Linked DNA regions of Homo sapiens: region 2 is linked to region 1. The links come from fine-mapping of genetic effects on gene expression. Tissue or cell type: whole blood. Region 1 holds a variant in brackets; the other region holds the start of a gene. All regions are shown on one strand. Distances are from middle to middle.

Region 1 (8,103 bases):
GATCAGGGCTCACTGTGGCCTTAAATTCCTGGGCTCAAGCGATCTTCCCACCTCATCCTCCCAAGTAGGTGGAACCACTGGTGTGCCACCATGCCTGGCTTATTTATTTATGTAGGAGACAGTCTTGCTCTGTCACCCAGGCTAGAGTGCAGTAGCCCAATCTCGATTTACTGCAACCTCCGCTTCTCAGCTCTCGTGCCTCAGCCTCCCAAGTAGCTGGGACTACAGGCACCCGCCACCATGCCTGGCTAATTTTTTTGTATTTTAGTAGAGATGGGGTTTCTCTGTGTTGCCCAGGGTCGTCTTGAACTCCTGAGCTCAGGCAGTCCACCCGCCTCAGCCTCCCAGAATGCTAGGATTACAGGTGTGAGCCACCATTTCTAGCCTTTATTTTTTATTACTGATTTGTTTATTTATTTGGTAGAAACAGGGTCTCGCTTTGTTGCCCAGGCTGGTGTTGAATTCCAGGCCTCAAGTGATCCTCCTGCCTCAGCCTCCTAAAGTGTTGGGATTACAGACGTGAGCCACCACACCTGGCCTGGCATGAGCTTGAAAAGTCTGAGGGAAGGAGAGGGGCCCATCATCCCGGCAGGAGCGAGGGTAGAGCAGGAGATGAGTCTGGAAAGGAAGTCATGGAGAGTGTATCATAAGCAAGACCTTTTAAAGCAATTTCCGAGGCGTTCTTGTCCTCCTGAGCTACCCATCCTCAGTGAGAAAGGCCCAGGCTACTTAGAGAATGTGGCAAAGATCTTCCTGCCACCCTCCAATGGCCCATTTCAAAAGTGAGCGTGTCTTTTGAAGGCGTCAGCTTCTGGCACATCTTACCCAGGCTCGTGGTTTGTTTTGTTTTTTTTTTTTTTGAGACGGAATCTGGCTCTGTTGCCCAGGCCGGAGTGCAATGGCACGATCTCGGCTCACTGCAACCTCTGCCTCCCAGGTTCAAGCAATTCTCCTGCCTCCGCCTCCTGAATAGCTGGGATTACAGATGCATGCCACCATGCCTGGCTAATTTTTTGTATTTTTAGTAGAGATGGGATTTCACCATGTTGGCCAAGCTGGTCTTGAACTCCTGACCTTGTGATCCACCCTCTTCGGCCTCTCAAAGTGCTGCGATTACAGGCATGAGCCACCGCAGCCAGCCTCTGGGCTGGTGTTTTTAAACAGTTTTTATTTGCATGGCTCTGGGTCCTCAGCCTGATTTTACCCTTGGAGTTCAAAGCCATCTAATTGGAAATGAAAGGAGCCTGATTGATTTGGCAACTCTGCGGCCAGCCCACGTGGCGGTGATGCGATGGAGAAAGTGAGTGCTGCTCACGTGTGTGTCTGCGCCACGCTCCCTGGCTCGAGGTGGCTGAGCCCCACTGCCCAATTGGCCTGGACACACAGAGCAAGGCGGAGCGGGGAGGGGGCAGGGGCGTGGCAAGCGCTCCCCGGATCCTGGAATCCCCAGAAGGAGGCAGCTAGTTGGAAGCCTCAATTCCCTCAGCCCTGCTTGCACAGCTGCCTCTGCCCCCTCACTCCTATCACCCAGTTTCTCCTGCTAGGAAAATAGGAAGTTGGTCCAAAAGGGAACTGCATGGGCAAAAGTGAACTGCAGAATCTTGAGTCTGCTCATTGAAATACAGATTCCCAGGGCCTGCCCAGACCTACTGAATCAGCGTGTCTGGAGTGACGCCCAGGTATCTGCATTTTTTCATTTTCTTAAGAGACAGGGTTTCACCATATTGCCCAGGCTGGTCTCAAACTCCCAAGCTCCTCAAGCAGTCCACCCACCTCGGCCTCCCAAAGTGCTGGATTATAGATATGAGCCACCGCATCTGGCCGATCTGCATTTTGTGTGTGTGCGCGCGCGCGCGCGGGCGCGTGTGTGTGTGTGATGGAGTCTCACTCTGTCACCCAGGCTGGAGTGTGGTAGTGCGATCTTGGCTCACTGCAACCTCTGCCTCTTGGGTTCAAGTGATTCTCCCGCCTCAGCCTCCTGAGTAGCTGGGACTACAGGTACCCTCCACAACACCTGGCTAATTTTTGTATTTTTAGTAGAGACAGGGTTACACCATGTTGGCCAGGCAGATCCTCCTGCCTTGGCCCCCCAGAGTGCTGGGATTATAGGCGTGAGCCACTGCACCCAGCCAATCTGCATTTTTGACAGGCTTCCCAGGGCTTCTGAAATCAAGCTAGGGTTGCGTCTTTGATGGGTCATCCATGTGGGTTGATGGCCATGTTCAGGGTAGACAGGCAGCAAGATGGCAGGGGGATTGGCATCCCCAAGATGAATGGTGCCTGGATGATGCCTGGATGGGACTGCTCCTTGAAGAACATTCAGTTGTCTCCTGAGATGGGAGGGTGGGCTACGGGGGCAGGAATGGAGGACAGGACTCCCAAGTCTCTTACCCCTGAAACACAGCCCAGCATTTGGAGTCTTGGAGAATGGCTATCTGAGGGGCCTACCCAGCCCTGACCTGATGAGAGACACCATCTGCCTTTCATTTCCAGAAGGTTTTGTTGCTGGGGGAGGAAATACCCAAATTGTGGTCCAGCAAAGAAATGTTTCCCACCGTGGCCCACGGCCAGAAAGTCACTGGTTCCTCACTTCAGCGTTTGGTTTATAGACACGTGACAGAAGAGGCAACCTTTCCAGTGATGACAAAGCCGGCGGAAAAACAAAGACATGGGGGAAATGTGCATTACTTATTGTTTTAGCACCTTTTTCTAATCTAAAGTTACTTTTAGAAACAGAAAAGTGGTGTGTGTAACTTAGTCGGCACGTGGCATTTTTAGAATTGGTCTGTTTCGAAGTGTGAAAGAAAAAAATATTTTTTTCCTGAGTTTCCATAAAACTTAGAAGTTTACAGGAAAATCATGCTTTTCCCTGACTCTCTTCTTTCTGCCTTGCCCCCTGGATTTCATCATTGCCATGTGTGGCCCAAGCAGCCAGCTTGAAAATGTATTTTGTTATTTATTGTTAGAATAAAGTCTTGCACCAAGACAACTGGGTCATGTTAGAAAGTCCCTTTGCTTCCTTGTGCTCAGAAACAGAGTTTGCTGGGTGTGGTGGTTCACGCCTGTAATCCCAGCACTTTGGGAACCTGAGGTGGGAGGATCACTTGAGCCCAGGAGCTTGAGACCAGCCTGGGCAACCTAGTGAGACCCCTTCTCTACAAAAATAAAAAATTAGTCCAGTGTGGTGGCACACACCTGTGGTTTCAGCTACTCGGGAGGGC[A/G]AAGAAGGATTGTTGAGCCCAGGAGGTTAAAGCTGCAGTGAATGGTGATCGCACCACTGCACTCCAGCCTGGGCAATAGAGCAAGACCCTATCTCAAAATAAAACATAAAGAAGGCAGGCCGGGTGTGGTAGCTCACGCCTGTAATCCCAGCACTTTGGGAGGCCGAGTTGGGCGGATTACTTGAGGTCAGGAGTTTGAGACCAGCCTGGCCAACATGGTGAAACCCTGTCTCTACAAAAATACAAAAATTAGCTTGGTGTCGTGGTGGGCGCCTGTAATCCCAGTTACTCAGGAGGCTGAGGCAGGAGAATCACTTGAACCGGGGAGGCAGAGGTTGCAGTGAGCAGAGATGGCGCCATTGCACTCCAGCCTGGGTGACAGAGCGAGACTCTATCTCAAAAAATAAATAAATAAATAAAATAAAAGAGAAGGCAGAGCTGGCCATCTCTTCACCATCCTCCCCCTTGTCACTGCTTCTGGATCCCTGTGAGTAAGGGTGTCCTCAGCTCAGCCCTGGAGCACCTTAGGCTCTTTGAGTGTTGGAAGAGGATCAGGTCTGGGTACATAACTTCCCAGCTGGAGGGTCAGATCCTTGCTATGCTAAGCAGTGATGACAGGCTGGTGACAACAGACCAAACTAAGACTGTCTTTGTATGTTGGCAATGGCCCCCCCAGGGGGACCTTGCAAATATGCAGATTTTAACATCCCTCATTTCAGATCTGTCAGGGTGGGACAAGTTCTTCTGGCCTGTGAGCTCCTGCCATACACAGTCCTGGAGCCTGCTGGCTCTGAGTTGCTCATTTGCATTTGGCCACAGGGTTCTGGTCAGGGGAACTCCCCTCTCCCCCACCCTTCCTCCATGACTTGGCTCGCTCCTTCTGCTCCAAGCCCATGGCTCAGTGGACACTAGGCAGCTGTCTCCTGGGGCGCAGGGAGGGTACCCTTGAAGGCTAGTGGATAGGAAGCAAGTTTCTGAATGGACACTGGTACTAGGTCTTCCTTCTGGGATGAGGTGGCTCCTTCCAGACTAAAGCTGGCTTTTCTGGCTCTGGCTGTGCCTGCCTTCTAGGTTTGTCTACTGCACATCTGACAGGTCTTGTGATGGAACCTCAGTGATACCAAGATGGAGACAATGAGGTCCTTGTCCTCAGAGGACTCCTGGCCAGATGGGGGAGGTGGGCAAGGAAACAGCAGTTTTAAAACAGTGTCACAAGTGCTGCACGGGGCTGGGGCCACGCCATGTAGGGGTCTCTGAGCAAGGCACACAGACCTGCATGGCTGCTGAGCCTAATTTACTGAGCTTTCTAAATGGGTCAGCTGGGTGAAGAGGACAGTACCTGTGCAGAGGACATCTGTTCAGTGGTAGGAGCCACTGTCCCCATGTGCCACGTCTTCCATGTGGGGCATCTCTTTCATAGCCCTGGAGCACCTACTGTGTGGTTCTGTTTCAGAGGAGCTATTGCAGATTGCTACTTGTTCAATAAAATTATTGAAGTTTAAAATGTTCTAATTAATATGTGTTGGCCCAGGAGCCACCTCCCACCTTTTCCTTATTGTTAGGAAGAGCCCAGCCGTTTCCTGGGAGACAAAGGAGGCCATGAATCTTGACTCCTTGTGATTCCAGGATCACTGTCCTGCAGCCAGGTTCCTGACACTAGGAGATGCACATGAAATATCCTCCATCAGGGAAGGAATCTCCCTCCAGTGAGAACTCCCGAGAGGCTGATGATTGACCAGGATTGACAGGACAGGGAAAGAGCAGCCCTTTCACATCCCAGGTCAAGACCAGTGAGGCCCAGAGAAGTGTCCCAACCTTCCCACGCTGGGAAAGGCAACCAGGGCCAGGGCTGAGCACTGAGCACCAGGCCTCCTTCCTGGCTTCTCCCCTCTCTGGAAGCTTAGCATTAGACAGAGCCGCCGAGCTGTGGTGCTGAAGGGTTAACTCGGGGCTCCCCAGAGAGCCGCACACTCCCGACCCTCTCATCTTCCAGGCCCTCTCAGCTGCAGCCTTCTGGGCATAGCTGGGTCACGTGAGAGCCAGATGTGGGGATTTCCCAAGCAGTGGTGTGTGCGTGCGCACTGCGTGCATGCACAGCTCTGTTTACGTGGCATCTCAGCGCTCAGGGGATTGGTCTGGACCCACGCAGAGGAGGGGAGGGATGGGGTAAGGAAAGGCTCAGGGGCTCCCAGCAAACACCATGGGAGGCTGCACCAAGCCCTGCTCCCCCCAGACATTACACATGAACGGGTCGTTCCTGCTCCGGCTCCTGTTTCCTGTAGCGTCCATCCTGCCAGAGACTGTACTGCTTAGGGGTAATTTTTCTAAAAATCTCTTTGAAGGGCATTAAAGCAGATGCTGGGAGCCAACGCCCTTCAGGGTGTTCTGCAGGCTCGGAGGCCTGCACGGGAGCCACTGTGCCCAGCACAAGCCAGGCCTGTATGCCTGTATGTGGTTCCGGAGGCCAAGCCTGGACTAGAGAGGGCAGAGCCGTGGGTATCAAGAGGGTCCTGGGGCAGTGGGGTAGCCGGGCCTCAGTTTTCCATGCACCCTTGGGCTTGAGAGCAGTGAGTATTCATCTTTCCATCAGCCACTGAGGGTTAATTGGGCACCTCCTGCATTCAAGGTGTTGTGGGGTGCTGACAGGGATAAGGCCTTGAAGGAACTAAAGGTCTGATTGAAGAGACTCATAACAAATCTTTAATAAGCACCTACTATGCGCTATGCGCTTGCTAGGACTATAGCCCTAACCAGACGTTTGGAGCCAGTGGGAACAGTCAGTGAACAAAGATCCTGCCCAGGGCATGATAAGGGAGACAGAAAACCTTGAAAAGTGGGTGTCCTCAACCTCAGTCCAGGAATGAATTCTCCTCCTACCCCTGACCCCCCATCCCCACCCCTGTCTTGCACCAGTGGATGGCAGCGTCCAGCCAGATGTCCCTGAGGCTCCGTGAGCCCTACCCCAAAGATGGGTCCAGTTATACCTTCAAGGCCTCCAGGACTCAGCCCTGCCGTCTCCTCCCTCAGACCTTCCGGGACCCAGCCTGTCTCCCCAAACCTACATGACTCCTGAAGCAGACAGGAATGCTGGGGACGGTGTCTGTGGTTGTGTGTCTGATGCTTTGAGACAGAGGGTGGAGAGTCAGATGGTCTCAACCAGGGGCCGTTGATGCTCCCGAAATAGTTGGCGGTTGATTCATTGATAATCCGATAGCAAGAGTCCAGTCTGGAGAGAAGGAGACATTCCACATTTTGTTGTCCGGGGAGGGGAATGTCTGTCCTGAGTCCGTTGCTATTGACTCCATCACTCACTCGCGGCTCTCAGGGAGACTGAGCCAGGGAGGAGGCGGATTGCAAGACTCGGGGCTGGAGACCAGCGACTGCTGACTTCATCCCACTGCCCAGCCTCTCTGCTGCTCCTTCTCTGTGTGAACGCAAATACTGGCTTTGGCTCGGGCTTCTGGGGGAGCTGGAGGGTGGGGGAATTGGAGGGAGGATCTCCCAGTAAGTGAGGGAGGACCACCAAGGCAGGCCACCCCAGGGAGGGAGGTGGCTGGGATCCTGGAACTCAGAACAAACTTGAGTTTGTCTCTTCTCTGCACACAAATGCCCTGGGGTGGGGAGAGGTGAGAACCTGAGAACTGAGGGGGAGGCCGCAACCCAAGGGGCTGCCATGGGTTGGGCAGCAGCTGCTGGGATCAGAGAGGCTCTGAACCTGCCAGCCTCCCTGGCCAGCACCCCTCTGTCCACCCACGGCACCTCTCACTAACCCAGCACCTATCTTTAACCAGGAAGCTTCCGGTCTTCTCAGCAGGGTGGAGGGAGGTGACAGAACTACCTGCTACTCCCTGCCAGGGCAGCCCCTTCTAGGCAGCCTCAGTGCTCCTAGGGCATCCTTGGCTTCTCCGTCCACACCCACTTAGGCTGGGCTGACCCTTCTGGCCCCAGGCTTGGCCTAGGCAGGCACCCTTGGACTTAGTCCCTAAGGGGCTGTGGAGGGTCTCCAGGCCCAGCCCCCACTGCACCCCATCCCCCGCCTGAGCAGGGAAACTGCTCCTTGACTGCATAACCCAGGGCCAGAGGGTCAATAGTGCATTCCTACCCTGGGTTGGGCTGCCCCCACACGTGTTCTGGATTCCAGGGAATGAGGCAAGTCCTTTCTTGCTGCATTTACGAAAAGCAGCAGAAATAAAGAAAGCCTTGGCCAGTGGCCAGGGAGGATCAGAAAATGACATCCCCCATGAGGACCCTTTGTTCCCAATTCCTGGCCAGCCTGCCTGGGCTTAAGTCTGATGCCATCACTTCTTGCTGTAGGGCCTTGGGAAAGAACCTTAACTTTTCTTTTTTTTTTCCCCCGAGACGGAGTTTCGCTCTTGTTGCCCAGGCTGGAGTGCAATGGCGCGATCTCGGCTCACTGCAACCTCCGCCTCCCGGATTCAAGCAATTCTCCTGCCTCAGCCGCCCAAGTAGCTGAGATTACAGGCATGCACCACTATGCCTGGCTAATTTTATATTTAGTAGAGATGGGGTTTAACATGTTGGACAGGCTGGTCTCGAACTCCTGACCTCAGATGATCCACCCACCTCAGCCTCCCAAAGTGCTAAGGTTACAGGCGTGAGCCACCGCACAAGGCCAGAGCCTTAACTTTTCTGTGCCTCACTTTCCTCATCTGTAAATTACAGACTGTTGTGAAGATTAAACAAGAAAATGCTCATAAATGTTTAGCACAGCACCTAGCATGAATGTTAAGTAAGTGGAAACTGGTATAATTATTCTAGCTCCAGCCCTACGACTTATTTGCTGTGTGATCTTAGGCAAGTCTCTTCTCCTCTCTGGTTCTGAGACCCTAAATAGTCCTTCCAGCCTGTGGGGGTACCACCA
Region 2 (8,103 bases), 180 kb before region 1:
GGGCCAGAAAGAGCACCAGAGACCCAGACGTGGGAAAGAACTTCAAGGTCACAGGCTGGTTTGTGGTTAAGCCAGGAGTAGAACCCAGGTTGGGTAATTCCTGCTCTGAGACTCCAATTCTTCTTCTTCTTAGGCATTACTTAGCCCCAGCATTATCTACAAATATCTGCTGAGATCCCAGTAATTTAAAAAGACAACCATTTATTGAGGGCCTGGCATGTATAAAGCTCTGCGCTGGGTGGGCAGGTGTGTGTGGCAGGTGACAGAGGTGCTGGATGATGGGGGTGGGGAGGGAAAGGGTGGTGTCCATGTCTAAGTTCATGGTCCTCAAGGCCTTCAAAGGCTTCTTACTGGTTTAGAAGGCACAACCTAAAGCACAGGAAAGTTAAATAACAATAAAAGATATAAATAAGGTTCAATACAGTGAAGGCTGAGCTGTCATAGGGTGATGTATGATTAGTAAACAAATGTATGATTAGCAATTGTCATTCGATTTCTGAAGAGGAAGAGAAGGTTCTCTTGTGCTTTCATATAGCCCACTGTGGTTTCCAGTACTTTCCTGCATGTTGTCTTCTTTGGGGGTGGTCACAAAGACCCTACATGGGAGAGGAGGTAGGGCGGGTTCTGCTTTAGGGGAGCTGATGGAATTTGCACGTACACAGAGGACCATGGAGACACACACGGCCTCTGCTCTAGAGGATTGTACAGTCCTCTTTATTGGGAAGTCCAGGCATCACGAGTTCATATGCTTGTGTGAATGGAGAACTGGAACCAGGGACTCCAGGGTTTGAGTGAATGCAACATTCTAGACCTGCAGGTGTGCTAAGTGTGCCCTTTAAACAAGCTCTTCTTGCCCTAGTATAGGCACATAAATGTGGAGGGGAAAGACAGCGGGCTTTGGACTAACTGGCTATGTGGCATCAAGCAACTTGCTTAGTTTTTCTTGGCCTTGGTTTCTTCCTCTGTAAAATAAGAGAAATAAATAACCTCTCTTGTCCCTTCTAGTTGGAAAGTTCTTTGATTCTAAGCATTCTACAATTACCTGTTTTCGAAAATCAGATTTTCAGGTATCAGTTTGCATCTTTATGTTGGCTTCTCTTTCCCTTACTTATCCTAAACTTAAAAAAAAATTTGCAATTATATTTTGTCATTTTTAACTCACACAATGTCCTTAGGTTGGAGTCATCTCCAGTTCATGGGCGGAGGTGGCAAAATAGGGGTTTCTCTAATCCTTTCTAGCACTAGCTCTTTGAGCAGATGTTTTCAACACAGGCCATCCTATATACCTACTGTGTGCCACGCATAGTTGGGGTATTTAATGAATGATGCACAGTCCTTGTTTCCAAGGAAACTTCCCCCAGTCTCTGTCATTTTTGGGGGATTGCCAGGCACATGTGAGGCATTCAATAAATGTGTATTGAACAGAAAGGAATTCCCAAGGCACTGTGGGAAATAAATCTGCATGAGGTTGAAATGTACCCAGAGAAGAGATAGCCTGCACCATTTCATACTTAAATCCCCTTGGACATACGGCCCCAGTACAGAAAAGACATTTTTCTCCCACAGGTAGAAATAACTTCTGCCCAGATCTTGGCACCATGGGGTTGAGTGGGGAGCACTCAGTTGCTCCCTCCAATAAAGGTAATTACGGAACAAAGGGGGAAGTTGGGAGTATGCTCAAGTCAGGCTTAAAGGCCTGAATTTATAAAATGTCAAGTTGCAGGGAGTCTTTTAGGCAGGAGAAAGGCTACCACTTTGTAGGCCGCTAGGAAGTGGGGAAGAACTGGGCCCTCTCTCCTACAAATTTATTGTGCTTGGTGTGTTCATTGTGGATCTGGGTCCGAAAGAAGGGTAATAAGGAAACCACTAGTGCTGTTTTAGATGAGCTGACTGCTTTGATTCACAAGGGGACCCAAATCAAACTAAACCCCCTCCTCTTCTTCCCCCCACAACAGCTAAACACCAGCTCCCCTCGCTGGTGGCTTCTCAGGTTTTATTAGCACTTCCAGAAGACTTTGCCATCCACAGAAGACGAGTTATCCGAGAGCCATGATGAATCTCTTCCTCACAAACTCACAGGCTGTCTTGATCCATCATCAGAGAGGACCTGGAGCTGGCCAGCACCCTCCCAAGTTCGGGAGCTCAATATGGAGGGCCCGTTCCAGGTCTACCTCTCATCCCTTCAGGGAATAATCCTTGCTCATGGAGGTAGTGCCCTGTCCTCCCATTTTCCCATCAGCTGAGCAACATTACCAGGTGCACCTTCCCCCAGGACTCCTGCTCCAACATTCACAAAGGTTTTCTGTCATCTTCTCTGACCAAGAAGCTCTGGCCTGGTGCCAAGATCTCTCACAGTCTGAGCCCCCTAGGCCCATCCATCTTTTTTTTTCTTTGTCCCGTGCCATCGTTTGGTGTCCTAGCGCCCTTCCCCAGGAAGGTTGGAGGAATAGTGGGTTACTCTGTATGGAGCAAATATGTGAATAAATAAAGCCTTAGATCTGTGCCTGGGTTCTGACAGTCTAGAGAACGCGCAGAAGAAAGTATTAATGCAATTAGGTCACAAAATTATTTGTCCTCTTTTCAGATGTTTCACATTGGTCCACAGTCACAAAGCTTTATTGTGATTGTGTAACAACTGGAGTAGTTGTGAAAACACTACCCTTTAAATGTTTGAAAGCAGAATGGGAAAAAAATGTTGAACTAGAAGGGGGGAAGCTACATTGAATTAAGTAGTAACTGTGCTCCAAGTCCAGGGACCACGGACAAGTGGCTTGGAAAGTGGGTTTTCCAGACTAGAGGGAGGGGTGAGAATGCCAGAGCCTGGGGCTCACGGTGAGCTGGCCTCCAACCGGGTGGGTTTTCCCACCATTGTATGCTCCTTTCCCTGTCGCCAGCTTGGGGAGGGTCCCCAGGGGAGCCCTGGGCTTAAGGCAGTGGTGTTATGCAGAGTCTGTAACGTTGTCATTGGTAAATGATGCACAGGGTAGTTACACAAGCCCAGATCGATGGACGACTCAGGCAACGAATCGATCACTTTTCCGGGGAGAATTCACCCTTTATGACCTGCAGAGGGTCAGGTGGTTCGTCCAAAGAGGCTCTGGCTTGAAGGATTTAAAGCTGGCCTTTTCCCCATTCCCATCTCCTCCTCGGGGGCCTGGGCAGTAACAGCCGGGTAATAAACTACTTCTCATTAAAGAGATCTGGGGGTGGAAGTTGTAGGGGGACATAAAAGTGGGGACAAAAAGGCACAAATCCGCTCCGAGGCGGAAAGCCAGGATGGGGGCGCGCGGGGCTCACTTTCCCCGCTCCCTCTCCCCCCGAAGCCACCCTGAGTTTTTGTGCCTAGCGAACTAGCCCGGTGCTGCGCCAGGCCGCTGGCTGCGCGCTGGGCTCGGGTGGGGGCTCGTCGGCCCGCCCCTGCCACTGGGGCCGGGCTGCAGCCCCCTCCCCGTCGCCCCGAGCCCCTCCCCCGGCCCGGAGCCCCTCCCCGCGCGCTTCCCCTCTCTCCCCTCCCTCCCTTCCCTTCCCTGCCTGCCAGGCCCTGCCTCCGCCTCCTGCGCCCACAGCCTCCGCCAGCGCCGATCCCCCCGGAGCCCGAGCCGGAGAGCGGCGAAGGGGAGCCGCCGGCCCCTCCCCAGGACGCTGACAGCAGGCTCCGGGGCCCCCGCCCCGTCCCCTCGCCGACGGGACACACCCCCGCCCCTCCTCTGCTCCGCCAGTTCCCGCCGGACCCACCGGGCGGCGGAGAGAGCGAGCGGGCGAGCGCAGCGCGGCGGCCGCGCGGGAGTGAAGGGGCGCGCGGCAGGCCGGCGGGGAGTCCCCCGGGGCGCACGGAGCCCGCGCGCCCTCCGGGACCCTCCCCCGTCCCTGGGCCGGACCTGTGGGCGCCGGGAGTCCGGGCAGCGTTCGGCGCGCCGGGCCGGGGTGGCGGGCGGCCCCGGGACCCCGGCAGCTGGAGAAGGAGCCGGAGCCCGGCCGGGATGAGAAGGTGACGCCGCCGGGGGCGCCACTCGCTTTGTGGGGGAAGATGCTCGCCTACTGCGTGCAGGATGCCACCGTGGTGGACGTGGAGAAGCGGAGGAACCCCTCCAAGCACTACGTGAGTACAGCCCCCGCCGACCCTGCTGGGGGTGGCCCGAGGTCCCGGGAGGGCCCCGGATGGCCCCTTGCCCCTCCCAGCTGTGAGGTCGCGAAGCTAAGCGCCCACTGGGCAGCCAGCAGCCGTGGAGTTTCTTCGCAGGGCTGTGATCTCCAGGGAAGCCTCTTCTGTCCTTCCTCCTTCGCACCCCCGCCCCCCCGGTTTCTTTTTTTGGCATTGGAATTGGCAAGTGGCTGCCCTTGTCTGTTACAACGGTGAAGTCATCTGTCCGCCTTTGATGGATGGTGGGGGGAGCTTTCGTCAACCCCTCACAGAGCAGCCCCGTCGGGAAAGCGCATCTCCTCGGCCCTCCCCAGGGGCCCTGGGCGCTCACGCTCACACAGCCCGAGATGCTTTCAGAGCTCGCCCTGGAGAAGGAAGCCTCGCGCCCTGCCTCCCACGCCAGCTCTGTCTCTGCCTTCCTAGGCCTGGGGCTGGGGGCAGAAGGAAGCCGCCGCCCCCTTGCCCAACCTCCACCCTCCGCGCTAAGCTTTGATTTCCCTCATAAAGCCATTGTGTCCGTCGGTGTGAGGAGAATTGTGGCTTTTCCTTTTATCCCTCCTCTGGACGTGACCCTTAACCGGGTTCATTTCCTCTTAAGTGATGCTCCATCTCCAGACACGAGGAGGCGAATGTTTGCTGTGGTCTCCGAGGAACCGCCCCTCCCCCTTCCTCCCCCAAACTTTAATGAGAAGGGGTTAAGGTTGACTGGGGCAGCTCCAGAGCCTATGTGACAGTTCCCCTTTCATCTCAGCCGGTCCTGTCTTCCCATCCCTCACACCTTAGGAAGTAAACACGGTGTCCTTGACCCCTCTGAGCGTCTGTGCTCCTGTACTTGAGATAGAAGAGACCCAAGCACAGAGGACTGCATGTTATTTGCAAATTGGGTATTTAGAGGAGCAGTTCCAGTGCTCAAAGCATTAATCTTAACAGTTAAAACAGGCGCTGGTTGCTGCCCTGGATTGTACATTGATCTCTGAAGTGCCTTTTCTTCCACTGTTGCAAAGGGACTGGGGTTTGTGGCAATGTCAGCCTCGGGCTACTCTTTTTGCCTTTGTCACCAGTGTAGCTCTGAACTTTGAGTTTCTTTACAGCTGAGCAAATGCGGCTGGGCTCATATGGGGAGGAGGTAAATGTGGAGGCAGGTTGACTAGGCAGGGAGGTGGGTGCCTGTCGGGTCCAGTCCCTGACACCCTTAGAGAGTTGTTTCTTTTGTGTCATCTGGTCCAGCAAGCATTTTCTGCTGCTGTTACAAGAAAGCTCTTTTTGGAGGGCTTGGGTCACCAGGTGGTCAACCTGCTCTGTGGACAGATGTCCCTTTGTATATCCCAGGGTTTATTTTTCTCAAATGTTGCAGGCTAAGTTTTAAGGGTTCTCATTTGTAGTCCTCAGCTGAGCTTGGCACTGCATTCAACAGATGGCACTCTGCTCTGAGACCCAGGCAGGTGCGTTTCCAACTCTGGATTTTAAATGAAACATCACATTTCAGCTCCCACCGATGGTGCCCAAGGTTGCAGATGCAGGACACACTGGTAACAAACTAGAACCGGGGCCCACTGCAGACAGGATTGAAAGGCAAGATTGCGTGCTGGGGTTCTGAAGTTAGACGGTCTTGCTCAAAGCCTGGCATGCAGCCAGTAACTAGCTGTGCCACCTTGGCAAGTTATTTAAACCTCCCCCAGCCTCAGTTTACTCAATTTCAAGTAAGGATAATAATAGTATGTACTTGTTGGGAGAATTAAATGAGATCATCTATGTAAAGCACTTAGCCCAGTTCCTGGCACGCAGTAAGCTCTTATTAAATGGTAGCTTATTATTGGTGAGATTCTGACTAAGAAAGTATTTTTGAAAAGCAGCTATTAATGGTCTGGCAAAAAGGAAGAAAGATTTTGGGTTTTAAGATTGATAATAACTTGTTCTATGTGAAAAACACAAAAGAAGTCCTGTCCAGTTCCCTCGAAATGATCATTTCCTTCCTTTTTACAGACAAAGTGTTTCCCGGGACATCTCCGCTTCCCGAGTAAGAATCGATGACATTATGTTTGGGGGGGCAGGGAGTGATGTCACTGAACAGATGGGGCCATGCAGAGTTCTGAACTAGAGTTCTGGAAAACACTGAGAGGAGAAAGTGTTACATGTTGTGGAATTGTGGAACGGGCAGAGACCCGAAGACTCATCTGGCTCAACTCCTTCATTTTACAGATGAGGAAATGGAGAGCCAGATTGGGTAAAGTAACTTGCAACACAGCTGCTCACAGCTGGGTTTTTTTCATTGCATGTACCCTAAGTCCAGTTGGGTTTGGCTAAGAGGACAAATAACTGGTGGTCAAAAAGTTTCTACCCATTTGGGGCATTGTATATATTAATACATAACATAAGCATATCCAATAATTGAAAGGGGGAAAGAAAGCAATAGAAAGGGCCTGGTGGGACAGACAGGGGCAGGAGGAGCGGGTTTGGGGAGGCTGCAGCCTCTTCCTCTCCTGGCCCTTGCACGGTGAATACCACACACCAAAAGCTCAAGTGTTGTGAGTAAGGCCCTCTGGTGTGGTCAGCTGGCAGGACGTGCTGCACCCATTGCCTGTGTTCTGGAAACCCTCTACACTGGAGGAGCAAGCCTCCTTCCAGCCTTTCCTCTGCTGATGGTGAATTCTGAGTCTGTGGTTTGGTAAATTGCAGAGCAGAGAGGTTTTACGGGATGTGCGTGTTAGCCAGAGCTAGCCGATGAGAGGCCTGGGGCCCACGCAGGAGGAGCTCTGCTGGCTCCAGAGTGCTGGGAACACACTGCAAAGGTTCTCTCAGGACATTCTGCAAAGGGTTTGCTCATCCCCACGGGGAGGGGGAGCTGCCTGAACACGAAGGGTCCTGTGCTTTCGGTCAGTTCATGAAGGCACGCAAGTAGCTTCCATCATGGGGATGGCACTCAGCCCTGGCTTCCTTCTTCTCTGCCAGGCCCCTGCTTGGGGTGGGGTTGAGAAGGGCAGGCAGCTGCTACTAAGGTCAGGCTCCCTGGCATGAAGCTAGGCTCCTTTCCTGGCTTTCTGAGCTGTGCCTGGGGAGACCCTAGGTAAACTGGCTTTGGCCTCTGACCGCTTGTCTTGAAAATGGTCCTGATGATGCTGGATGCAGAATGCAGATTCCTTCGTTTGAAAGTTTTTCAGTAAAGATTTGAATTCAGGTCCACCGGGTTCTTTGTGCTCACAGGCAGGTATAGGTATATATCAATTCATGTGGTAGAGAAAAGCTCGTTTATCTAAAACAAACAAGAAATTGTATCTATTTGGATTTGGGAGGTATTGCACTTTCACAGTTGTTTTATTTCCTGATTGTTTATTTCAGACAAATACCAATCATGAATGTTCTGATCCTCTGCAGGACTCTTTGGGGAATGCAAATAATAGCCAGTTTAGCAGTTACCATCGATGGTGAAACATACTTAACACTCGTGTTTTCGTGTGATTCCTGCAGGTCATTGAATGTACCCTAATGTGGGGTAGGTTTTTGGATTCTGTTTTACAGATGAATTAACTGCAACTTGGAGCAATTCACCAACTTGCTTAGGGTCTCGCAGCTGGCACAGGGCAGAGCTAGGGCAATGCAGGTCAGGTTAGCTCCAAAGGAGGATGTGGATATAAGGTGGGGCCCTTCTCTTCAATTAGAATCCGGGCAGGAAGGCCAGGCTCAGCCCTGTTCCATGGTGACAGAGCAGTACAGGGTTGTCTTTAGGACTGCCTCACTGTAGAGACATCTACCATGTGCCCTGCAGGTGAGTTCATGGTGGGCAACGCAGGCGGGTCACTGTGAGGCAGGAGGAGTAGAGCAACTTCAGGCTGGTATCTGGTCCCCAGTAATGCTTAGGGTAATAAATTAAGGGTTGACCTTGTGGACATAATATATTCTTCCTCTGTTTAGATCATCCCAGATTTTATTCTTGGTCCTGGGAGCTACATGCTTAGGAATTGGCC

Evidence for each region. PIP is the estimated chance that this variant, and not a neighbour inherited with it, causes the effect.
Region 2: it holds the start of SH3PXD2A, and the variant in region 1 is fine-mapped to the expression of SH3PXD2A in whole blood (INTERVAL, PIP above 0.99).

What each region holds. Positions count from the first base shown.
Region 1 is chr10:103,675,514-103,683,616 of GRCh38, reverse strand. All of the region lies in intron 6 of SH3PXD2A (SH3 and PX domains 2A), which reads left to right. Among named protein-coding and RNA genes, the nearest start is that of SH3PXD2A-AS1, 67 kb to the left of the region's middle. RefSeq lists enhancers at 856-1,636, 5,000-5,169, 5,180-5,239. The variant A/G (reference allele first, on the strand shown) is at 3,222.
Region 2 is chr10:103,851,191-103,859,293 of GRCh38, reverse strand. SH3PXD2A (SH3 and PX domains 2A) reads left to right here and starts at 3,718. Exons shown (of 15, transcript NM_001394015.1): 1 at 3,718-4,099. The coding sequence starts at 4,028.